Homo sapiens: one gene and its partners. The protein of the gene in region 1 purifies or fractionates together with the protein of each later gene. This does not show direct contact. Each region holds a gene or a part of one and is shown on either strand. Other genes may lie near its edges.

Region 1 (3,959 bases):
CCTGGAACTACAGAATAAGTTCCAAAATTGGGTGTCTAAGAACTCTGAATACCTCTCCAATATTTACCAGTGGTCAAGTCAAACTCGTTTTGCTCATTAATGGTATAAGTCGGCTGGAGCTGAGAATTGGCATTATAGAGAATGTTTTTGAGACAGAGTCTTGCTCTGTCACCCAGGATGGACTTCAGTGGCATGATCTCAACTCACTGCAACCTCTGCCTCCTGAGTTAAGTGATTCTGCTGCCTCAACCTCCCGAGTAGCTGGCGTTACAGGTACCCGCCACCATGCCTGGATAATTTTTATTTTTTTTAGTAGAGATGGCTTGCACCATGTTGGACAGGCTAGTCTCAAACTCCTGACCTCATGTGTTCTTCCCACCTTGGCCTCCCAAAGTGCTGGGATCACAGGTCACTGCACCCAGCCTAGAGTATTTAATATACATTCATATAAAAAAGAAGCACTGGTTTCATAAAACAAATGTACATTATATGAGATTCCACTTCATAAAAGCATGTATGTGTACCCCAACACTAAATTGGCCCTTTTAACAAAATATCAGACTTTGTCCTACTTAACTGGAAAGATTATCTATATTTTATAAAGAAGAGAAATAACATAATAGTAAGGCTGTGATTTCCTCTTTTTTGCAAAAACTATTTTTGAAAAGTATTACTGAATTGATAACATATATATGGAGAGATTTAAAATACTAGATAAGGGAGCTTATTCCAATGAATTTACAGAAAGGTAGGTATTTTAGTCAACTAAAAATATAAATAAAAATTATCAATTCACTTATTTGGATACAGCAGTCATGCCAGAGTTTATAAATATAGTGAAATCACTGAAGATTTTTTTTTACCCCCAAAACTGAAAAAAATGGCAGTGTACCTTGTGAATTTTTTAAATGAAAAAAGAATACGAAATGATGAAGGCCCTTATCTGATGATGACAAACTAGAAAACTGAAATGTAAAGGGGAAAATGTGAGTATGTGTTTCCCTCCAGCAAATTAAAGACAGGGTACATAGATTCAAGAGGTTGCGCTTTGAGGATAAAAAGCTGGGCCCTGTGCAGTTTTCCAAGACAACCTCTGGGCGCCGCTGTCGACCAAAAGGAAGTGAAGGCTTCTCAATTCTGCAGGAGCGTCAGGCAGGGTGCCTTCCTGCTTTGTCCGGTGCACTGAGCACAGACGCTGCTCCTGTTCACCCTCGAGCGCCTAACTAATAAGTCCTAAGCTCAAATCACAGAAGTCCAGGGTGCTGCCATTTCTTTTTGAAAAACATCCCAGAGGAAAGAAGCTCCGCGGAGAGTTCCTGAAATGCAGAGAGCCAGAGAAGCCGAAATGATGAAAAGTCAGGTACTGTTTCCCTTCCTGCTGTCTTTGTTCTGCGGGGCCATCTCCCAGCAGATCCGATACACGATTCCAGAGGAGCTAGCCAACGGCTCACGGGTGGGGAAACTTGCCAAGGATCTGGGGCTCAGTGTCCGGGAGTTGCCAACTCGAAAACTGCGGGTTAGTGCAGAGGATTATTTCAACGTTAGTTTGGAGAGCGGGGATTTGTTAGTGAACGGTAGGATAGATCGAGAGAAGATTTGCGGAAGGAAACTTGAGTGTGCACTAGAATTCGAAACGGTCGCTGAAAACCCAATGAATGTTTTCCACGTGGTTGTTGTAATCCAAGATATTAATGACAATGCACCACGTTTCGTTGCAAAAGGCATTGACTTAGAAATTTGTGAGTCAGCCTTACCCGGGGTAAAATTCTCTCTGGATTCTGCTCAAGATGCAGATGTGGAAGGCAATTCACTGAAGTTATACACCATCAACCCCAATCAATACTTCTCTCTGTCAACGAAGGAAAGTCCTGATGGAAGTAAATATCCGGTATTACTGCTGGAAAAACCTCTAGACAGGGAACATCAGAGCTCTCATCGCTTAATCCTGACTGCCATGGATGGCGGGGACCCGCCTCTAAGCGGCACCACCCATATCTGGATCCGAGTTACGGATGCCAATGATAATGCTCCCGTGTTTAGCCAGGAGGTATACAGGGTTAGCCTCCAAGAAAACGTACCGTGGGGAACCTCCGTGCTGCGGGTGATGGCCACAGACCAGGATGAGGGCATTAATGCAGAGATCACCTATGCCTTCCTCAATTCCCCAATAAGTACCAGCCTCTTCAATCTCAATCCAAATACTGGCGACATCACAACCAATGGCACATTGGATTTTGAAGAGACAAGTAGATATGTGTTGAGTGTGGAAGCTAAGGATGGAGGAGTACACACAGCTCACTGTAATGTTCAAATAGAAATTGTTGACGAGAATGACAATGCCCCAGAGGTGACATTCATGTCCTTCTCTAACCAGATTCCAGAGGATTCAGACCTTGGAACTGTAATAGCCCTCATAAAAGTGCGAGACAAGGATTCTGGGCAAAATGGCATGGTGACATGCTATACTCAGGAAGAAGTTCCTTTCAAATTAGAATCCACCTCGAAGAATTATTACAAGCTGGTGATTGCTGGAGCCCTAAACCGGGAGCAGACAGCAGACTACAACGTCACAATCATAGCCACCGACAAGGGCAAACCAGCCCTTTCCTCCAGGACAAGCATCACCCTGCACATCTCCGACATCAACGACAATGCACCTGTTTTCCATCAGGCCTCCTATGTGGTCCACGTGTCTGAGAACAACCCACCTGGCGCCTCCATTGCACAAGTAAGCGCCTCCGACCCGGATTTGGGACCCAACGGCAGAGTCTCCTACTCTATTCTGGCCAGTGACCTGGAGCCGCGGGAGCTGTTGTCCTACGTGTCCGTGAGCCCGCAGAGCGGGGTGGTGTTCGCGCAGCGCGCCTTCGACCACGAGCAGCTGCGCGCCTTCGAGCTCACACTGCAGGCCAGGGACCAGGGCTCCCCCGCGCTCAGCGCCAACGTGAGCCTGCGCGTGTTGGTGGGCGACCTCAATGACAATGCGCCACGGGTGCTGTACCCCGCGCTGGGGCCTGATGGCTCCGCCCTCTTCGATATGGTGCCACGCGCCGCAGAGCCCGGCTACCTGGTGACCAAGGTGGTGGCGGTGGACGCAGACTCAGGACACAACGCTTGGCTGTCCTACCACGTGCTGCAGGCCAGCGAGCCCGGGCTCTTCAGCCTGGGGTTGCGCACGGGTGAGGTGCGCACAGCGCGTGCCTTGGGCGACAGGGACGCGGCCCGCCAGCGCCTGCTGGTCGCTGTGCGTGATGGAGGACAGCCGCCACTCTCCGCCACCGCCACGCTGCACCTAATCTTCGCGGATAGCCTGCAAGAGGTATTGCCAGACCTCAGCGACCGCCCTGAGCCCTCTGACCCCCAGACGGAACTGCAGTTTTACCTGGTTGTGGCCTTGGCCTTGATCTCAGTGCTCTTTCTCCTCGCGGTGATTCTAGCGATCGCCCTGCGCCTGCGACGTTCCTCCAGCCTCGACACTGAGGGCTGCTTTCAAACCGGTCTCTGCTCCAAGTCTGGGCCCGGGGTTCCTCCCAACCACAGCGAGGGGACTTTGCCCTATTCCTACAATCTATGTATTGCCTCTCATTCTGCAAAGACAGAGTTTAATTCTCTCAACCTGACACCGGAAATGGCTCCCCCTCAGGATCTGCTGTGTGATGATCCTTCTATGGTTGTATGTGCCAGTAATGAAGATCACAAAATCGCTTATGACCCTTCTTTGTCTTCGCACGTGAGTTTCTGCAAATCTAGTTAAATTTTATATATGGCGGCCGGGCGCGGTGGCTCAAGCCTGTAATCCCAGCACTTAACCAGGCTGAGGCAGGTGGATCACTTGAGGTCAGGAGTTTGAGACCAGCATAGCCAAGATGGTAAAACCCGGTCTACTAAAATTACAAAAATTAGTTGGGTGTGGTGGCACGCGCCTGTAGTCCCAGTTACTCAGGAAGCTGAGACAGGAG
Region 2 (3,500 bases), on another chromosome or scaffold:
TGTTTACTACTGTGTGACCTTGGGCAGGTAGCTTTGCTTCTCTGAGCTTGACATCCTGATATGCAAAGTGGAGTGGGAAAAACCTGCCTCACAAGATTGTGCCACGAGATGATGGGTAGGTAATGTCTCAAATGGAACCCTCATCATGCCAGGCATTCGAAATATGTTGAGCTTCTGCCCTGCTTGTGGGCATCTTAAAGATGTCCCCAGAAGGGGCACATCCTAGTCCAAGGAGGGTGGATTTGATTTGGGAAAATTGGGAGCAGTCGTGCCATAGTGGAGCATATGGGATTGGTGGAGCCTATGGGAGAAGCAGTGAATGGATGACACCGTTTGGGGTCCAAGCACCATGTAGCTTTGAAGGAAGAAAGCAGGTCTCTGCAAGCTTCTGTGCTGCCTCTGAAGGCAGTTTCCTATAAAGTGGTGCCTTTCCTGTGCCGGCTGGGCTACTCTACCGGGCCATGTCTGGCTGCCCCGGGACCATTTTGTGGGAGCCATGGGGGCGTCATCTGGATGAACTCATTCTAGCCCAGCTCTGTCAAACACCTGCCTTGCAGGCCCAAGGGAGCTGTGGAGGCAGTGGGCGGGGAATGCTGTGGCAGCCATTTGGGGTGCCTCCTGCATGCCTGAGGCATCCACGCTGAGTGAGGCCCCCAGGCTCATCCGGAGCAGAGGGTGCTGGCCTCCAGCTCACTGATCCTTCTGAAGTTTTTTGATCTGTGCCCATGGGCAGGGCACGCCATCCTACGTGGGCCTGACTTAGCGTTGATGTAGCGCAGTAGTTGAGGACAACATCTGGGCCCAGGCTGCTTGGGGTCACATCCAATGCCTGGCCGCTGACCAGCTGCATGTCCTTAATCTCCAAGCCTCCGTTCCCTCCACTGTCAAATGGAGATGACAACACTGCCTGCCTCATCAGGCCGTTGTGTCGGAGACTGAACTGTGCGGATTCCAAGATATACATTTTGACATTTCTGAAGCCAGGTTGTGCCTGACAACTGGTGTTACACCACAGTGGAACCAGCCATGCCTTTTATTTCTTAAATATACGTAAAGTAGTGATACAGGTTAGAGTCAAGAAAATATGATAAATAAGATCAGTTTTATAAGGGGCTCAGAACAGAGCCACCAGGCTGGTGGGAAGAAGCCAGGATTGCCACCTGCCTCCCCAGCTCAGTTGCGGTGAGTCCCTCACTGGGTCCTTTGTGTCCACTCTGAAACAATCAGCAAAAGAACACCTGCTTGCCGGAGCAGCTGTGAGAAGTCGGCAAACTTTTGTGTGTATTACGTGACCAGCAGAGTCCCCATATGCAGTAGGTGCTTAATAAATGGCCGTGCAAAACAAACAGCAAAGACCGTAGTACAAGGAGGAATTTAAAGCATAGACTCTGGGATTCTAATTCCTGCTCCACCATTTCCATGCTGTGTGACCCAGCACAAGTTTCTTAATTTCTCTGTGCCTTAGTCCCACCATCTGTAAAATGGGGATAACAAAAGTGTCCAATTCATAGGATTGTTGTGAGGATTAAGTAAAATTAAAGTGCTTAGGACAGCCCTTGGCAGAAGTGTAAGCAATTATTATTTGATGAACTTTAATGAGTCTCTTCTAGTTCAATAAATGATACTAAAATAAACACTAGGCTCAATAAAATAATAGCAGTTGAGGCTGCACTTGCTTTATAGCTGAGAAAACCAAGGGCCAAGAGGCATGCTGGTTTGCCCAGGATCACACAGCCAGCTCCCAGCAGACTGGAACCACAGCCCAATGTCCAGGCACCAGCCCAATGCTGCCTCTTTGCCCATGTTGGTTCAGGACTCTTTCTCTTATGGAGAAAGCAGTTCTTGCCATGGAGAGGAGGGTTTCTAGAAGAAGCCACCAGCAGATACATCACCAGTGCTTCAGGGATCCACAGGGTAATTAGGGCCCTCATTAGAAGTCGTTTCTGTCTTCCCTCAATTTTCTGCCTGACCACCACAAACAGTGGAAGGGGCCTAACTGGGATGCCCACCCTGCCCACAGCTGCCCAAGGTCAGCAGAGCCTGCCAACCATCCTGCAAGCCCACCAGCCAGCACTCTCCTGGCCTCCAAGTGGCTTCTGCAGAGTTGACACAGCAAAATTCCCTCCTGGAGACAGCAAAAGCCGTGGCTGGCCCGTTGGTCCAGCCACCAGACAGGCTAGGGCCACAAAGTGGATTGGAGTTGGGGGGAGGACAAAGACCTGGGTGCAGCCAGCCATGACAAGCACTTCAAGTGACCTTGGACAAGTCACAGTCTCTTTCTGAGCATCAGTTTCCCATCTTTGAAACAAGCCTTTTGGAGCCAGATGGGCCCCCTGAGACTTTAAATGTCTAAAATTCGAAGCTGCCTGGACATTGCTGATGTCCAGGTCACGGGGGAAGGGGCGGGGTTGGAGGGGTGGAGCTAGTGTCTGCGTGTGGAGTGCAATGTGTGTGGATCTTGGGTTGGACTCACTAGGAGCAAGCATGAGACAGCGCTCAGGAGAAAGGGGCTGAAAGGAAACAAGGTAGGGAGAGAAAGAGATAAACAAGCGTGTGGCCTCAGCTGATCCCTTGGGGGATGTGGGGCATGAACTGCGCCCCAGGTTTGGCTCTGCCTTGAAGCAAAAAAGCTGGCCTTTCATACCCCATATCAGATAGTTATTGGCCACGGCTGCCTTCTGAGTGGGATGCTGTGTGCAATTGCCCGGGCAGGAGCTCCTGTTCTTCCCAGGGCAAGCCTGCAAAGAAGGGGCAGCCGGGAGCTCTAGCTCCCAGCAGCTGGGGTGTGGAAGCTGCAGACCGGTAAGGAGGACTAGGGTGGGCACCAACAGTGTCCACTCTGTTATGTGGATTTGGGATGCAAAGGTTGCTGGGTGCCAGTCTCTTCCTAGCAACTATCTGAAGGCAGCAGATTAAGAGCTCTTTAGGCCACTTCTAAATTTATCAACTTACATGACTCACTTCAGATTAAAATGAAGCCCTTCTCCCCATCCCACCCCCAGCCAATTTCAGATTTCTGAGCTCAGAGCATCCTGAAGAGGGCATAGAATGCAAATCAATAAAACCAGTATTAGCTAAGTATTTGGTGTGGACCAGGCTGTTTGTCGGGCTCCTTGCTGAGCTCAGAGATGAATCAGCTCCAGAAACAACTCCTGCTGGGAGGCGGAGGCAGCCCCAGGTAGAAGGTGGTATACGACTGCGGGTGCCCTGCCTGGGGGCTAGGCCATGAATAACTTCCAGGACCAAGACTCAGCCTCACCACCACAGTATTTAGAGCTTCCAGAGCCTCAGTTTCCTTATCTACAAAATGGGGTCAGTGTGGTGAAGAGTATGTGGCCTGGGCCACTCCTGCACTCAGGGAGTAGCAATAAAATTAAGCGAGACCTGGCACTGGGACCCAGGGCTGTTTCTAGGCACTTCTCTGCCCTCTCAGAGGCCTGAGTCTGCCCCATGACCTCAGGGGAAGGAAATTCTGAGCTGAGTGGAGACATCAGCTTCCC
Region 3 (2,230 bases), on another chromosome or scaffold:
AAACCCAGATCTCTTAAAAATCCAAAATCCCCCAAGTCAATTTATTCTAGCTATTCTACTCTCCCCTGTAGCATTGCTTTTGGTTCAGAAATAATTGATTTTACGGTAAAGAGTAGAGTCACATGAATTCAGCTGAAAAGTGCATGTCTTGTGAAAACACCAAATCTTAAAAATAATTGTGATTTCGGACTTTAACACAGAATTGAAGGACAATTAATAGTTGACACGATCTGCAAAATGAAAGTGTAATCATAGCATAAACACTTTAATTTTATCTGATATTTGAAATATGCATTTGTGTAACTGCCAAAATATTATCTGCTTTCTGTTAGCCAGAATGTTCCAGGGACAGGAGCAGAACAGCCTTATTTATAAAGAGCAAGCAAAATATATTTTCCTTTGGGAGGGACTTTTGCTGTTGTTAACTAATGTCTGAGAATTTGGGGATGAAAACCTTTGTATTAAACTGGTGCAACATAACTCATGCCATGTAAAAAACACTTTTAACCTTTTTTCCACATGTGATAGCTTTGTATTGCAATTATTACGCATTATTGAAAATTCTATGAGAATTACTTAACTACTTTTTAATAAGTAATATAAAATTTTTCTTAGAAAGGTTTCATTTTTCTCTGCCATATTTTATCTATTTGGATTTTTTACTTCACTCTATGGTAAACATTCATCATTACAGGTTAAACAGTGTTTGGCTTTTAAAAATAAAGACTTTGCCTTGTTGAACAACTCAGGTTTGGGAAGGGCTTTAGTGGTTGCATTTTAATTTTTTTCAGGATTTTTACCCAAAAACATCCGTAAAATTTCATAGTTTATTTTAATTGTTTTGTGTTAAAAGCCTGGGATATTGCTAAGAAGAGAAAACAAAGAATGAATAGATATGGATTTGTCAACTTTACCCACTTATTTTTTATTTCTTGTCATTGAATTGAAATTTTTATAAATTCTTTCCATCTGAAATTGTATCACTTGTAAAGGTTTTTTTCTCAAATAGTACCATCTGATTAGGCTTTTAGATCTTCATATGTTACCTATGCTTTCTCATTAAAGAAAAAATACTATTTCTCTAGAAGCCTGTCCTTTTTAAAGCACAAAGTACACAGCAGGTGTTTGAAAACTTTCCATCTTCCTAGTTATCTTTATCTGTTTGTATAAATTGCTAAATTGCTTTCACAAAATGCCTCTAGACATAAGGGAATTATTTGCATAAGTGGATGAAGATTTTTGTTTTCCATGAAGGAAAGCTTGAAATGGCCTCCTAATTGTTTTCCTTCTTTCTCTTGTTGCAGTATCCGGCTGCTTTGATGAACCTGGGAGCCATTCTGCACCTCAATGGCAGACTCCAGAAGGCCGAGGCCAACTACCTGCGGGCCCTGCAGCTCAAGCCAGACGATGTCATCACACAGTCCAATCTCCGCAAACTGTGGAACATCATGGAAAAACAAGGCTTAAAGACTTCTAAGACCTGACACAGGAGGCAGAAGCCCATCCTCCTCCATTTTTAAAAGCTGGCTTCCTTAGCAGACAGAACTTCCCAGCAGTGCTATGACAAGAGCTGGTGTTAGACTTCAAGACCAGGGCAGAGGTCATTGAGGTCACTACCGCTTCTGGAAGAATCCACTTTGCTGTAGGCACAGCTGTTAACACCAAAAAGGGGAAAGCCGGAAACCTCCTGGAGGATGTCATTGTTACCCATAGACTGTAAACCAGAGCACTTAAAACAGAACCTTTTGGCATTCTTAAAAAGGGAGGGGTGGGTGTGTAAGTCACAGATTTTGTTCATTTTCTGAAAGCTAATTTCAAAATTATGTTGTTCCTTAAACACTGTGAGAGGAAGTCAGAGTGTCCATTCAGGCATGGCAAACAATTAGGGTTAAGTGTTACGAGGGAGTGATAAACACGTAGTGTGAGTCCCAGTGAGCCGCCGGTTGTCCTAACGCTGCTGTCTTCCCTGTTTGGGACAGCCTGCTTATCAATTTCTGAAGCTTAGAACACTTTTTTTAATACTGTGTCAAGATCTGTCAGAATCTGCTATGTTTCTTGACCAGTGCACATAATGTTTTATGATTTGGATGTCAGAGGCTTCATTCTTTTGGACATCATTTGCTTTTTATGTTCTGAAAAGGATATGGAGAGTAGAGCTAACCATACTTCACACTCGAGTTGTATGAGGGACTGGGGAGGCCTTATATGTGTCAGGCAGGCATTTTTTAAA
Region 4 (3,500 bases), on another chromosome or scaffold:
TTACAGATGTGCACCACCACACCCGGCTAATTTTTGTATTCTTTTTATTAGAGACGGGGCTTCACCATGTTGGGCAGGCTGGTCTCGAACTCCTGACTTCAAGTGATCCTCCCACCTTGGTCTTCCAAAGTACTGAGATTACAGGCGTGAGCCACCGCGCCTGGCCTAAAACTCTGCTTCTTATTGTGGCACGTGGCTGTAGATTGAGGTGGAGGTTCTGAGATCTGCGCGCAGTGGGGGTTACTGCTGAGCACTGGGGTCATTTCCTATGGGGAAGGAGGGAGGGAGGGAGGACTCCACAGAGGGGGAAGCTGAAGCCAGATGTGGTGGAAGCAGAGGCCTGAGTGATCCTGTTGGGGCTCCAGAGCTGGGATGACCTCCACAGTTGTGCCAATCAAGGCAAGGGGCAGCCTTTGCTTGCCTGGCCCCCTCACCTAACTTCTCCCCTCGCTTACTCTATTCCAGGGGATGGTAAACTTTTTCTGTAAAGGGCCAGAGAGTACGAGAGCCCTAGGATCTCTGTGCAAATACTCAGCTCTGTCACTGTACTGCAAAAGCAACTGTGGAAAATATGCAAACGAATGAGCGCCTGGGTTCCAATAAGTCTTTATTTACAAAGACAGGAAGCAAGGGTCCCCTTGATTTGGCCCAAAGGCCTTGGTCAGCGAGCCTCTGCTCTATTCTGACAGCCAGAAACTCTTGCTGTTCCAGGAACAGGCCAAGGCCACATCTGTCCTAGGACTTTCACAGATACTCACAGCCCTCTTCCTATCTCCCTCCATCTGAAGCGCTGCCTCCTCCCTGCCCACCTGTCTAGATCAGCGGTGCCCGTAAGTCCGGAACTCCTACCCTGCCTCCATTCCTCTCAGTCCTCATCACCCTATGCTGGATTAGCTTTTTCCTTTTTTTTTTGAGATGGAGTCTCGTTCTTGTTGCCCAGGCTGGAGTGCAATGGTGCAATATTGGCTCACCGCAACCTCCGCCTCCCGGGTTCAAGCGATTCTCCTGCCACAGCCTCCTGAGTGGCTGGGATTACAGGCATGCACCACCATGCCCTGCTAATTTTGTATTTTTAGTAGAGATGGGGTTTCTCCATGTCGGTCAGGCTGGTCTCGAACTCCCGACCTCAGGGGATTGGCCCGCCTCGGCCTCCCAAAGTGCTGAGATTACAGGTGTGAGCCACCACGCCTGGCCACTCTTTCCTTCTTTATTGCCGGTCTCTGGCACTAGAATGTCAGCTCCAGTGAGGGCCTCTGCTTGCTCCCAACTGGCTCCCAGCTACTAGAATGGAGCCTGGTGCAGTTGATCCTCAGTACACTCAGAGTTGCCATGCTTCTCCTCTCTCTGTCCACACCGACTCCAGCTACAAGCCATTGCCACTGGGGGACCCAAGCCTGCCACTCAGCAACACAGCGACCAGCCCAGGAGTAGCTCCGTGAGCCAATAGATCAGGTTGGGGCTTATGTAAAGCCCATTTTCTCCTGGGGTGGCTCTCAGCCATTTTGCCTCCCTCCAGGCAATGGCCTGCCCTACAGAGAAACCAACAAGAGGGACAGCAGGGCCTGCCAGGAGATGGGAGGGGCACAGCCCTCAGGGCACCTCCCAGGGTTTTGTGAGCTGGGATGAATGGGTTTATAGTCCTGAGTCACTCCAGAGGGAGGATTCCGGATTCAGCCCAGCCCCTGCTTCCTAAACAACTATGGGGTGGGGCAGGGAACACTGGAAAAGAAATGTACGTGTGAGCATCTGTAAGACCCGGTGACGGCAGGGCTGGGGCTGTCTCTGTCACCACTGTGACCCCAGCATAGGGTGGGGCAGAGAGTGGGTAACTCAGTGAGTTTTGTGTTTTATTTTTTTTATTTTTTTTTTTTTTGCGGGAGACGCCCTACCAAGGACACTGGGTCCATGTCCCGGTGCGGGACCACCTCAGTGAGTTTTTTGAGTGAAAGAATAAATAAAGGATATTTTTCCTAAGGTTGACATGGACCTTATTTATTTATTTATTTATTTATTTATTTAGAGATGAAGTCTCGCTCTGTCACCCAGGCTGGAGTATAATGGCATGATCTCGGCTCACTGCAACCTCCGCCTCCCGGGTCCAAGAGATTCTCCTGCCTCAGCCTCCCGAGTAGGTGGGATTACAGGTGCACAACCACCATGCCCAGCTAATTTTTGTATTTTTAGTAGAGACGAGGTTTCACCATGTTGATCAGGTTGGTCTTGAACTCCTGACCTCAGGTGATCCACCCACCCTGGCCTCCCAAAGTGCTAGGATTACAGGTGTGAGCCACTGCGCCCAGTCCCAAGGACTTTTTAAATATGAAAAAAGAATGCATCAACTTGAAGATAATCAGCTTCATTTACAAATTTATTCTAACCCCTCTCCCCAAATTACAAGGTACACAGAATTCTAGCTAGCAGAACACACGAGCAGTGAACCATCCTCTGGCCTCTTGCATTTTGAGAGGACGTTCTTTCCACTTCCACACACTCTGGCCACCCCTGACGCCGCAGTGGGGGAAGTAGATGGCCCTGCTGCCCACGATGACTGGCTGCCTGTCAGGGCAGGGCAGGGCAGGGCTGAGTGCGAAGTCTCTGAGATGTGAGAGCAGCACTCCATCTGGGTCAGGACAGCGCTGGGGTCAGGAATTGGAGCTCCTGCCTGTGTTCACACTCCCACCTCTGTTTTTTTTTTTTGAGTTGAGTCTCACTCTGTCACCCAGGCTGGAGTGCAGTGGCGCGATCTCAGCTCACTGCAACCTCCACCTCCTGGGTTCAAGCAATTCTCGTGCCTCAGCCTCCCGAGTAGCTGGGATTCAGGAATGTGCCAACATGCCCGGCTAATTTTTGTATTTTTAGTAGAGACGGGGTTTTGCCATGTTGGCCAGGCTGGTCTCGATCTCCTAACATCATGTGATCAGTCCACCTTGGCCTCTCAAAGTGCTGGGATGACAGGCGTGAGCTGGCCTGGGTCACTCCCAGTTTTAAACACAGCCCACTCAGGACCCACTCGGTCAGTTCCCTCTGCTCCAGCTTCTCCCCCTCTTCCAGAAGGAACTGAAATGCTGTTTCAGGCCAGGCGCGGTGGCTCACGCCTGTAATCCCAGCACTTTGGGAGGCCGAGGCGGGCGGATTACCTGAGGTCAGGAGTTCAAGATCAGCCTGGGCAACTTGGAGAAACCCCGTCTCCACTAAAATACAAAAATTAGCCAGGCGTGGGTGGTGGGCACATGTAATCCCAGCTACTTCGGAAGCTGAGGCAGGATCATTGGTTGAGCCTGGGAGGTAGAAGTTGCAGTGAGCCGAGATTGCACCACTGCACTCCGTCAGGGTGACGGAGCTAGACTGTCTCCGAAAGAAAAGAAAAGAAAAAAGAAGAGAAAAGAAGAAAAGAAAAGTTTCAGAACCTGTTTCTTGGCTTTCTATCTGGGCAGATCTTGGTCCAGGCCAGTTTTACCTCTTTAGAGAAGGGAGGTGAGGATGGAAGTCGGGGAAAGCCC
Region 5 (3,500 bases), on another chromosome or scaffold:
CTCATTGTATTAGTTCATTCTCACACTGCTAATAAAAACATACCTGAGACTGGGTAATTTATAAAGGAAAGAGTTTTAATTGACTCACAGTTCCACAGGGCTGGGGAGGCCTCAGGATCCCTGCAATTATGGCCGAAGGGGAAGCAAACCCGTCCTTCTTCTCATGGTGGCAGGAAGGGGAAGGAGTGCCAAGCAAAGGGGGAAGCCCCTTATAAAACCACCAGATGTCATGAGAACTCACTCACTATCTGGAGAACAGCATGGGGGAAACTGCCTGCATGATTCAATTATCTCCACCTGGTCCTGCCCTTGACATGTGGGGATTATTACAATTCTAGGTGAGATTTGGGTGGGGACACAGAGCCAAACAATATGACTCATGAACCTTCCTGCCTTTCTTAGGAGACACTCATCCCAGCTGCACGTGTAACTTGGTAAGGTTTTGAGGTCATTTAGAAGTAGCCAGGTAAATTATTATTGTCATCTACTCAGATTTATCCTGCAGTCTTCAGCCAACGCTGAATGCCATGGTTGGTAGCATTTCCCAAATGGTGGTAGCATCAGTGAAGTCCAAGAACCAGTTCCTGTGCTGATGTTAAGATTCTTGAAGGACTTAAATAGTAGTATGATACAAATGAGTTACAAGATCATTGAAAATTTTTGTCAGCATTAGGGAACTCTATAATCTACTAATTATTATTATTATTATTGCAAATAATTAGTTTAAATCAAATGGCAATTGTCCAGTCCAGATAAATATTGTTTTTACTACTTCTCCCTTTGGAAAGAGATAATATATTGTGTTCTAATCAAGGAGGACTTGGTTAACAAGGAGCTATCTCCCCGCTTATGTGGGGACAGGAAATATATTGCTGTTATGCTTTGGTGCTTCAGGATCTTAAATGGTTGAGACTGTCATTATGACCTTTGATATATGTTAGAAATGCCCAGGAAGCTGTGGAAGGTGGATTGTCTGCAAGATGTGCAGAATATCCTGGTAGTGTCCACATAATGTAAAAGCACAAGTGTTTGAGCTACTTGTGGTTTTTCTTATTTGGAGTGGAGAAGAGTAAAACAATTTTACTTGCACGCACACACACTATACACATACCCAGATGATTGATAGACATACCAGGGGTTTTGTGCTTACTTTGCCTTCAGCCTCTCAGAGACTGATTACGTTTGGAAAATTGAAATAGCCCAACAGGAACCTTACAGAGGATGTTAACCTCAGAAGCTTTTTAGTTTCTTCTTTTGTATTTGTCCTGTATTTACGTCTTTCAGTAAAGTAAAAACTCAGTTATTGACTTGAATTGCTTTGGAAGCATTGAAGTCTTCCACCAAATTGATTCATTACTGTACTAATTCAGTTCATTCCAGTGGTCTGAATCTCCTATTCCATGGTTTAATCATCACTCTGGCTCCTTCTGCATATGAAGCTATTGCATCTTACTGGTCCTACATTGAAGTGTATTGTATCTGTTTGTACAACCGATCATACATTTTAAGTTTTTATATTTCTCCATCTACCTTGTTTCTTCACAGAGCTACAGGCAACCAGCTGCTTTCATCGTCACACAATACCCTCTGCCAAACACTGTAAAAGACTTCTGGAGATTAGTGTATGATTATGGCTGTACCTCCATTGTGATGTTAAACGAAGTCGACTTGTCCCAGGTTAATGGCTATGGATTGCTTTTATGTACTTATATACAACTTAATAGAGTAGTAATGAATTGCTAAAATCTGCTTTATACTCTCCTAACTAGAAAAAATAATACTCTTTTTTTTTTTCTTTCAAAACGTTCATCATTTAGGGCTGCCCTCAGTACTGGCCAGAGGAAGGGATGCTACGATATGGCCCCATCCAAGTGGAATGTATGTCTTGTTCAATGGACTGTGATGTGATCAACCGGATTTTTAGGATATGCAATCTAACAAGAGTAAGTCACTATCGGATCCTTTGAGCTGATCTAGAATAGGTCAGTCATAACCAAGATGTGGTATAATTTTATTCAGACAACAGGGAGACTACAATTAATAAGCACTATATCATCCACCTCAAAGCTAGTAACCATCTTATGCCTTAGTACTCGAATAAAAATACAGGAAAACAGAAATGCTGGAAGCTAGGTTTTTCGGTCAGTCACTAGACTAGCATATTCTCTCAGGAAATACAGATGCACTGGCTCAGTCAAGTTGGACAGCCTAGGCCTGGCCTCTGAGTGTATGTAGACTTATCTTAAGGATGACTGCATGTTTTATTAGTATTGACATCCAGCCCAGAAATGGCATGTGATAAAAAAAATAAGAACATTGCAATAACAATAATGACAGAGAAACTGTACTGCAGGAGGAAAGAGACATGTTGGATCAACCATTATAGAAGGGTTCCATGTCACTGTTCCAAGTTCATTATTGATTATCCTACCTGCAATTTCATCTTCCTAAACGTCTCAACCTATGGCTCTAAGCAGATCTAAAGGTAGAACCAGTGCTGCTACCACCATGCCTTTTCCCAGCAGCAAAGTAGTAACTGTATCGTCTTTCTCTGACTCCTCATTTGCTTTCCACTACATGACAAATTCAATGTGGGTGGGGAAGATCTTAAAAAAAAAAGTGCTAATAAAGCCCGGGCACAGTGCCTCATGCCTGTAATTCCAGCACTTTGGGAGGCCAAGGCGGGCAGATCATAAGGTCAGGAGTTCAAGACCAGCCTGGCAACGTGGTGAAACCCCATCTCTACTAAAAATACAAAAATTAGCTGGACATGGTGGTGGCATGCCTGTAGTCCCAGCTAGTGGGGAGGCTGAGGCAGCAGAATCATTTGAACCCGGGAGGCAGAAGTTGTAGTGAGCTGAGATCACGCCACTGCACCCCAGGCTGTATAGAGCGAGACTTCGTCCCCCAAAAAAAGATATTAATAAAAACAATTTAGATTATGTAACCAAATAACAAGCAGAATTGGAAAAGAAAACATTAGTAACTTTCATGAAATTAAGCTCTTTTTAGAGAGAAACATTACTCTGTTTTTTAAAGCACCAGCTCTGTGGGTATGTATTTTAAGTGTGTGATTAGGATTATCATGTTTCAGTGTCTCTCATATCAAAATGACTACGTGTGTGTCTGGTTAATAAGTCTATATGTATATAACTATGAGCAGGGAATGGAATCATATCGACTCCTATTGCTCATTTCAGTGGAGAAAAAAAGGATAACTTCAATCATCTCATAATATTCATGCATATCTTAGATGTTAATTTAAATGGAATCTCATTATGTCTGCACATCTGTTACATTATGGTTCTAGTAATATTTGAGTTGGAAAAAAACAGAACTGCTGAAGACAGTAAGGCTTGTCTGTTAATTGAGCAGTTTATGTGAAAAATATTCTAGGAACAGGAACTGAAATGTTATATTTTTGTCAGCATATTTATTTATTTGTTTGCTTACTTATTGAACTGCCTCTGTATTTGGTATTCTGGTCCTTATTAGTACAT
Region 6 (3,500 bases), on another chromosome or scaffold:
TCATCAGGGGACTCTGACAATTCTTTCTCTCAACTCCTCTCTTTTGGGTTACTACCAGTGCCTTGCCAACAATAGCATCGGTGCCATTGTGAGTGGCCCTGCGACAGTATCTGTGGCAGGTGAGTTTAATTTTGTCCCTGTTAGGTATGGGTTTTCTTGAAATTACTGTTAGTGCTTATATTTCTGAAGAGGGGAAAGACCATGGGCTTTGGTGTAAAGCATATAGGAGTTTTTATCTCAGCCTTGACTCTTGCTGTGAGTATATTGTGGAAGTGCACTTAGACCTCTGTGAGCCTGGCCTCATGCCCTCATCAGTAACAATGATATGGAAATGATTTTTTTAAAGTTACGCAGTTAGGACAGTTTTTTTTTTTTCTTTATAATCTCTGCAGCTTTGCCAGGGAAGGACACTTTTTAAATGTGAATTCTGAACAATTTCTTTGTGAGTGCTTGGAAATCCATGATATCATTAACAACAAAAGCTGTTGTCTACTCTGACAGTTATTTCCTGGAGTCCTTTGTCTTTCTTTCACATCTAATTGTTTTATTTGCCTTGATTACTGAGTGATTTTAATATATTTAATTGAAGCCATGGTTAAAAAGCAGGAAAAAAGTAACTGTAAAGAAAGGAATGTTGAGTATTGAACTTACGGAAAATCTGGAATGCGTGGTTTTTCTTAGTAAGTTGGAGCCATCTGCGTTTCAAACGGTGATGGCTTCCAGTAATGGAAAACGTCTTTGTAAGGGCACCCCTATTTACAGAACAAATCTGGATTCCCCAGGAGTAGTGAGTTTGTCATAACTGAGAAGAGTAAATGTTTTTGTAGAGCTGTGACCCATGGACAGCTGTAAGACACACACTGGAGGGCTGAATTCCTCGTGGCAGGCTGCTGAGTGCTTTGAGCCCTGGAGATAATAAAGAGTCCCCTGCAGGCTCCGTCCGTAGTGAACTGAGACTGAGAGGAATTGAGACCAAGTTAGTAGATTCAGATAATCTAAATAATGATATCCTTCCTTATTTTTTTGATGTCCTAGGTTCATTCCAGAAATCATTTTATTGCAATGTGAATAGCTACAAACAGATTAAAGATCCGTAGGGAAAGTGAGTTTTGATGGGGCACTGGATTGAAAAGGATTTATCTTGACTGAATGGGAATAATTATGCTTTATGGTTCTAGATGTCTTAGGAGCAGTTTATATTTATTCCCTAGAAGCATTGACTTATGAAAAAGGGTGCCGTGACTTCGGTCTTAGCCCTCAACCATGCACATGTGCCCCAGCTGCTTTCTTTTCTTTTTTTTCTTTTTTTTTCTCTTGAGACAGGGTCTCACTCTGTTACCCAGGCTGGAGTGCAGTGGCTCTCCACTGCTTGGCTCATCACAGCCTGAACCTCCTGGGCTCAAGCGATCCTCCCACCTCAGCCTCCTGAGTAGCTTGCCCCAGCTGCTTTCTGAGATGAAAAGATCATGCAGCCCTCTGGACTGGGGTCAGCTGCCACAAAAGGCCGTGCTGCAGATGTTGTTTCTAATTTGTAAATTTCCTTTGGGAAAAAGAATTCAAATTTGCATGTATTTATTTATCTGTTTCCTTATATATTTCAGTTCTTGGTGATTTTGGTTCATCCACAAAGCATGTTATTACAGCAGAAGAAAAAAGTGCTGGTTTCATTGGCTGCAGGGTACCGGAGAGTAACCCCAAAGCTGAGGTGCGCTATAAAATCCGGGGAAAATGGCTGGAACATTCCACAGGTGAGACCTTTTGTGAAAAGCCGGTGGCACACACAGAACAAATGCTCATTAAATAAGCTACTTCTAAGCTCTGTGTGCTAGGGACGAACTGTGGATACAAGAAGGCATGAGTGGAGAGGACTAAAACAAATGGTTACAATATACAAATAATTACGGCCCCATACCCTGAGGCCTCACTCCCTCAGTTCCTTCAGACCCCCATCAGATTTCACTTCCTTGGAAAAGATAGCCCTCATGGTCCTATCTAAAATAATATGCCTGGTGCTCTCTGGCCCCTTTATTTCGTTTTGCTTTTCTTTATAGAATTGATCACACCTGATACTGTGTTATTCATATTTCTGTTAGTTTATTATTGTTTGTCTTTTCCTCTGACCTCCCCACATACCCCTACTGGAATGCCGGCTGCATGCATGCAGGGTTTTTGTCTGCTCTTTTCCTTGCCGTAGCACTTGTGCCTGGCCATTGTTGGCAGAAAGTAGCCCCTTAATATGTATTTGTGGAAAAAAAATGAATGACTAGACAGTGCAGGAACACCATGTGACCAGTGCTGTAGCTAGAGGTTTGCCAAAGTCAAAGCATGTTTCTTGTGCTTTGAGATTCACTACCGTTAACATGCTTCTGCTGGGTTTGGTTTGCTATGCTAGTTCTGTAGACTTTTTTTTCTATTCTGCCTTGACTTTCCCTTTCCTTCATTTAAGAAATTTTCCTTGATTGCTTCTTTACCGCTAATCTCATGTCTAAATGTAACGCAGGCTGGCCGGTGGCTCACGCCTATAATCCCAGCACTTTGGGAAGTTGAGGCAGGAAGATCACTTGAAGCCAGGAGTTCAAGACTAGCCTGGGCAATATAGTGAGACCCCCATCTCTACAAAAAATTTAAAAATTAACTGGGTGTGGTGGCATGCACCTGTAGTCCCAGCTACTTGGGAGGCTTAGGTGGGAGGACCGCTTGAGTCCAGGAGTTCCAGGCTGTAGCGAGCCATGCTTATGCCACTGTACTACAGCCTGGGTGACAGAATGAGACCCCCATCTCTAAAATAAAATAAGATGGAATAGAGCATAATGATCAGCCTTTGTGAGTTTTAGTTGTGCTGTGGTGTCCTTCATAAAGGGAGAGGCCTAACTGCACTCCCTTCCTTCCTCAGAGAATTACTTAATCCTTCCATCAGGAAATCTTCAGATTTTGAATGTATCCTTAGAGGACAAGGGATCATACAAATGTGCAGCTTATAATCCTGTCACACATCAATTAAAAGTTGAACCTATTGGCCGAAAGCTCCTTGTGAGTCGTAAGTATTTGGGAGAATAATGGTAACTGGAAGAGGAAGAGTCCTCATAAAAAGTTGGGCAATGATAGTTCATTTTTTTTTCAAATCCTGTTTGTTTATCATAAAAAGTCTTACCAAAAAAGTAAATACAGGCTAGGTGTGGTGGGTCACCCCTGTGATCTCAGCACTTTGGGAGGCTGAGGCAGGTGGATCACCTGAGGTCAGGAGTTTGAGACCAGCCTGACCAACAGGGTGAAACCCTGTCTCTAATAAAAATACAAAAATTAGCTGGGTGTGGCAGCACATGCCTGTAGTCCCAGCTACTTGAGAGGCTGAGGCAGTAGAATCGCTTGAACGTGGGAGGCAGAGGTTGCAGTGAGCTGAGATTGCGCCACTGCACTCCAGCCTGGGTGACAGAATGTGACTCTGTCTTAAAAAAAAAAGTAAATACATGAATGCATTATAGAAGAGTTCTGTACATGCT
Region 7 (3,500 bases), on another chromosome or scaffold:
TCTTTTGAGATGGAGTTTCGCTCTTGATGCCCAGACAGGAGTGCAATGGCACAATCTCAGCTCACCGCAACCTCCCCCTCCCAGTTTCAAGTGATTCTCCTGCCTCAGCCTCACGAGCAGCTGGGATTACAGGAATGCACCACCACACCCAGCTAATTTTGTATTTTTAAGAGAGTCAGGGTTTCTCCATGTTGGTCAGGCTGGTCTCCAACTCCTGACCTCAGGTGATCCACCCACCTTGGCTTCCCAAAGTGCTGGGATTATAGGCATGAGCCACTGCACCCACCTAGAAAAAAATCATTACATTTTTAAAAATTAAAAATCCAGTTCCTCAGTCACACTAGCCACATTTCAAATGCTTAACAGCCACGTGTGTCCAGTGGGTACCATAATGGGCAGCACACCTAGAAAACATTCCCATCACAGCAGACGTTCATCTTTGGGCCCCCAGTGTCTAACCTGGTGCCTGCCACATAGTAGACAATACTGTTTGAGGATCTGGATCGCAACATTTTATAGGTTCTATAAGGAAACTTTCTACTAAAACAAGTAAATTGCTGAGGGTCACACAGAGATTTCAGGTCCATGTCCCTTCCAGGTTAACATTCCATGACTGCCCAGCTTTCTCCCCAAGGCATCACCCTCCCTGGCCTTCCAAAGTGGCCTGACCTCATGTCCCCCTTTTCCTTAGATAATGGGTTTCTGCTCTGGTCCCTGGGGATCCCTGTCCATGGTCAAGCCACTGCAGCCCCTCTTTCCCTCCAGGTGCCCGCTCCCAGCCCTTGGTGCAGTTCCAGCGCCGGGCTGCCCGCCTGCCTGTCAGCTCCACCTACAGCCAGCTCTGGGCGTCACTTACGCCTGCCAGCACCCAGCAGGAAATGCGGGCTTTCCCTGCCTTCCTGGGCACTGAGGCCTCCAGCTCAGGTAGGCTGGGTGCCCAGCACGGATGGGGTCTCCCCAGGCTCAGGATCAGCCCTCAGCCCTGTACCCTCTTCCCTCAGGCAATGGCTCCTGGCTGGAGCTGATGCCCCTGACTGCTGTGAGCGTGCACCTGCTGACAGGTAATGGGACAGAGGTGCCGCTCTCAGGCCCCATTCACCTGTCCCTGCCCGTGCCCTCCGAGACTCGTGCCCTCACCGTGGGCACCAGCATTCCAGCCTGGAGATTTGACCCCAAGAGTGGTAAGTGCCTCAGGGGGCTGCAGGTGCTTGAGTTGAGAGAAGAAAGTGGGACTTGAGTGGGAGCGACTCAAGTGTGACAAAACCCCTGCCTCTCCCAGGGCTGTGGGTGCGCAATGGCACTGGTGTAATCCGGAAGGAAGGCCGGCAGCTCTACTGGACCTTCGTCTCCCCCCAGCTGGGGTACTGGGTGGCCGCCATGGCCTCCCCCACGGCTGGTAAGAGTAGTGGGGCAGTGGGCGTAGAGGCCGCGGAGGAGGGGAGCTGGGAGAGCAGACTTCTGAAAGGCAGGAAGGGTGTCTACACCTGAACGCTAAGCCCTCGCCTGGCACAGGGCTGGTCACCATCACGTCGGGCATCCAGGACATCGGCACCTACCACACCATCTTCTTGCTCACCATCCTGGCAGCCCTGGCCCTGCTGGTGCTTATCCTGCTGTGTCTGCTCATCTACTACTGCCGGTGAGCACGGGGCTTCCCTCACCCTCCCCTGCACTTGTACCGGGCCCTGGGGCCCCAAAGATGCATAAAATCCACTTCTGGTCCTCAAGGGGCAGACAGGAAAAGACTTCCTGCAAACATGCTAAGACCTGAAGGGCTGGTGCTGGTGGTTGAAGACAGCGGGGAGGTGGGAGGGGAGGCAGGGCTTAAGGACTTGCAGCCCGGCCCCTCCAGAGAGATCTGCCACTGCCCCTACCAGCCCAGCTCTCTCTCCCAGAGGACTCCAGGCCGGACACACCCATAGACAGCTTAGATGCTCATCCCTGGTTCTCGCAGCACATCCTACATGCAGAGGAGTGCAGAGTTGACCCTGAGGGGATCGCCAAACGGACACGGCGGCTCCCCGCCATCTCTCCTGAGCGCCCCAGGCATTCTCCCCACCTCTTCCACTATATTCGTCTCTTGTCTTGCATCTAAGGGGGTTCGGGGCCTACTTTGGCCCTCACCCTTTCCTGAGCGGCCCCTTCTGCTCCCTCCCTTCCAGGAGGCGCTGCCTGAAGCCGAGGCAACAGCACCGCAAGCTGCAGCTCTCGGGGCCCTCTGACGGTAACAAACGAGACCAGGCCACCTCGATGTCCCAGCTCCACCTCATCTGTGGGGGACCCCTGGAACCCGCCCCGTCGGGGGACCCCGAGGCTCCGCCTCCAGGCCCCCTCCACTCGGCCTTCTCCAGCTCCCGGGACTTGGCCTCCTCCCGGGATGACTTCTTCCGCACCAAGCCGCGCTCTGCCAGCCGCCCGGCCGCCGAGCCTTCGGGTGCCCGCGGGGGCGAGAGCGCCGGGCTCAAGGGCGCTCGCTCGGCCGAGGGCCCCGGCGGGCTGGAGCCCGGCCTAGAGGAGCACCGGCGGGGGCCCTCGGGGGCTGCGGCCTTCCTGCACGAGCCGCCCTCGCCGCCGCCGCCCTTCGACCACTACCTGGGCCACAAGGGGGCGGCCGAGGGCAAGACCCCCGACTTCCTGCTGTCGCAGTCGGTGGACCAGCTGGCGCGGCCGCCGTCGCTGGGCCAGGCGGGGCAGCTCATCTTCTGCGGCTCCATCGACCACCTCAAGGACAACGTCTACCGCAACGTCATGCCCACCCTGGTGATCCCCGCGCACTACGTGCGCCTCGGCGGCGAGGCGGGCGCCGCCGGCGTGGGCGACGAGCCGGCCCCGCCGGAGGGCACGGCACCCGGCCCGGCGCGCGCTTTTCCCCAGCCCGACCCCCAGCGCCCGCAGATGCCGGGCCACTCGGGCCCGGGGGGCGAGGGCGGCGGGGGCGGCGGCGAGGGCTGGGGGGCCGGGCGCGCGGCGCCCGTCAGTGGCTCAGTCACCATCCCTGTGCTATTCAACGAGTCCACCATGGCGCAGCTCAACGGGGAGCTGCAGGCCCTGACCGAGAAGAAGCTGCTGGAACTGGGCGTGAAGCCGCACCCGCGCGCCTGGTTCGTGTCCCTCGACGGGCGCTCCAACTCGCAAGTGCGCCACTCTTACATCGACCTGCAGGCGGGCGGCGGGGCACGCAGCACCGACGCCAGCCTGGACTCGGGCGTAGATGTCCACGAGGCGCGGCCCGCGCGCCGCCGGCCCGCGAGGGAGGAGCGGGAGCGCGCCCCGCCTGCCGCGCCGCCGCCGCCGCCCGCGCCCCCGCGCCTGGCGCTCAGCGAGGACACGGAGCCCAGCAGCAGCGAGAGCCGCACGGGCCTCTGCTCTCCGGAGGACAACTCGCTGACGCCGCTGCTGGACGAGGTGGCGGCGCCCGAGGGCCGGGCGGCCACGGTACCCCGGGGGCGGGGCCGCAGCCGCGGGGACAGCTCCCGCAGCAGCGCCAGCGAGCTGCGGCG

Evidence for each region.
Region 2: the proteins of PCDHGB1 (region 1) and ATP2B2 purify together in Homo sapiens (affinity purification with mass spectrometry; 2 studies listed by BioGRID and IntAct, with this or other methods). This does not show direct contact.
Region 3: the proteins of PCDHGB1 (region 1) and TMTC2 purify together in Homo sapiens (affinity purification with mass spectrometry; 2 studies listed by BioGRID and IntAct, with this or other methods). This does not show direct contact.
Region 4: the proteins of PCDHGB1 (region 1) and OPA3 purify together in Homo sapiens (co-immunoprecipitation; 3 studies listed by BioGRID and IntAct, with this or other methods). This does not show direct contact.
Region 5: the proteins of PCDHGB1 (region 1) and PTPRK purify together in Homo sapiens (affinity purification with mass spectrometry; 2 studies listed by BioGRID and IntAct, with this or other methods). This does not show direct contact.
Region 6: the proteins of PCDHGB1 (region 1) and CDON purify together in Homo sapiens (affinity purification with mass spectrometry; 2 studies listed by BioGRID and IntAct, with this or other methods). This does not show direct contact.
Region 7: the proteins of PCDHGB1 (region 1) and FAM171A2 purify together in Homo sapiens (co-immunoprecipitation; 3 studies listed by BioGRID and IntAct, with this or other methods). This does not show direct contact.

The regions. Positions count from the first base shown.
Region 1 is NC_000005.10:141,348,940-141,352,898, forward strand, and holds the start of PCDHGB1 (protocadherin gamma-B1 isoform 1 precursor), read left to right. Parts: upstream 1-1,159; 5' UTR 1,160-1,321; coding exon 1,322-3,730; coding exon of another isoform or gene 3,731-3,754; intron 3,755-3,959. UniProt on the Homo sapiens protein: Potential calcium-dependent cell-adhesion protein. May be involved in the establishment and maintenance of specific neuronal connections in the brain.
Region 2 is NC_000003.12:10,495,587-10,499,086, reverse strand, and holds part of ATP2B2 (plasma membrane calcium-transporting ATPase 2), read left to right. Parts: intron 1-3,500. UniProt on the Homo sapiens protein: ATP-driven Ca(2+) ion pump involved in the maintenance of basal intracellular Ca(2+) levels in specialized cells of cerebellar circuit and vestibular and cochlear systems.
Region 3 is NC_000012.12:83,130,906-83,133,135, forward strand, and holds part of TMTC2 (protein O-mannosyl-transferase TMTC2 isoform 1 precursor), read left to right. Parts: intron 1-1,304; coding exon 1,305-1,484; 3' UTR 1,485-2,230. UniProt on the Homo sapiens protein: Transfers mannosyl residues to the hydroxyl group of serine or threonine residues.
Region 4 is NC_000019.10:45,546,803-45,550,302, forward strand, and holds part of OPA3 (optic atrophy 3 protein), read right to left. Parts: 3' UTR 1-3,500. UniProt on the Homo sapiens protein: May play some role in mitochondrial processes.
Region 5 is NC_000006.12:127,975,100-127,978,599, reverse strand, and holds part of PTPRK (receptor-type tyrosine-protein phosphatase kappa isoform b precursor), read left to right. Parts: intron 1-1,545; coding exon 1,546-1,677; intron 1,678-1,817; coding exon 1,818-1,943; intron 1,944-3,500. UniProt on the Homo sapiens protein: Regulation of processes involving cell contact and adhesion such as growth control, tumor invasion, and metastasis. Negative regulator of EGFR signaling pathway. Forms complexes with beta-catenin and gamma-catenin/plakoglobin.
Region 6 is NC_000011.10:126,017,867-126,021,366, reverse strand, and holds part of CDON (cell adhesion molecule-related/down-regulated by oncogenes isoform 2 precursor), read left to right. Parts: coding exon 1-119; intron 120-1,601; coding exon 1,602-1,748; intron 1,749-2,893; coding exon 2,894-3,037; intron 3,038-3,500. UniProt on the Homo sapiens protein: Component of a cell-surface receptor complex that mediates cell-cell interactions between muscle precursor cells. Promotes differentiation of myogenic cells.
Region 7 is NC_000017.11:44,353,854-44,357,353, reverse strand, and holds part of FAM171A2 (protein FAM171A2 precursor), read left to right. Parts: intron 1-765; coding exon 766-924; intron 925-1,001; coding exon 1,002-1,181; intron 1,182-1,279; coding exon 1,280-1,396; intron 1,397-1,512; coding exon 1,513-1,639; intron 1,640-2,162; coding exon 2,163-3,500.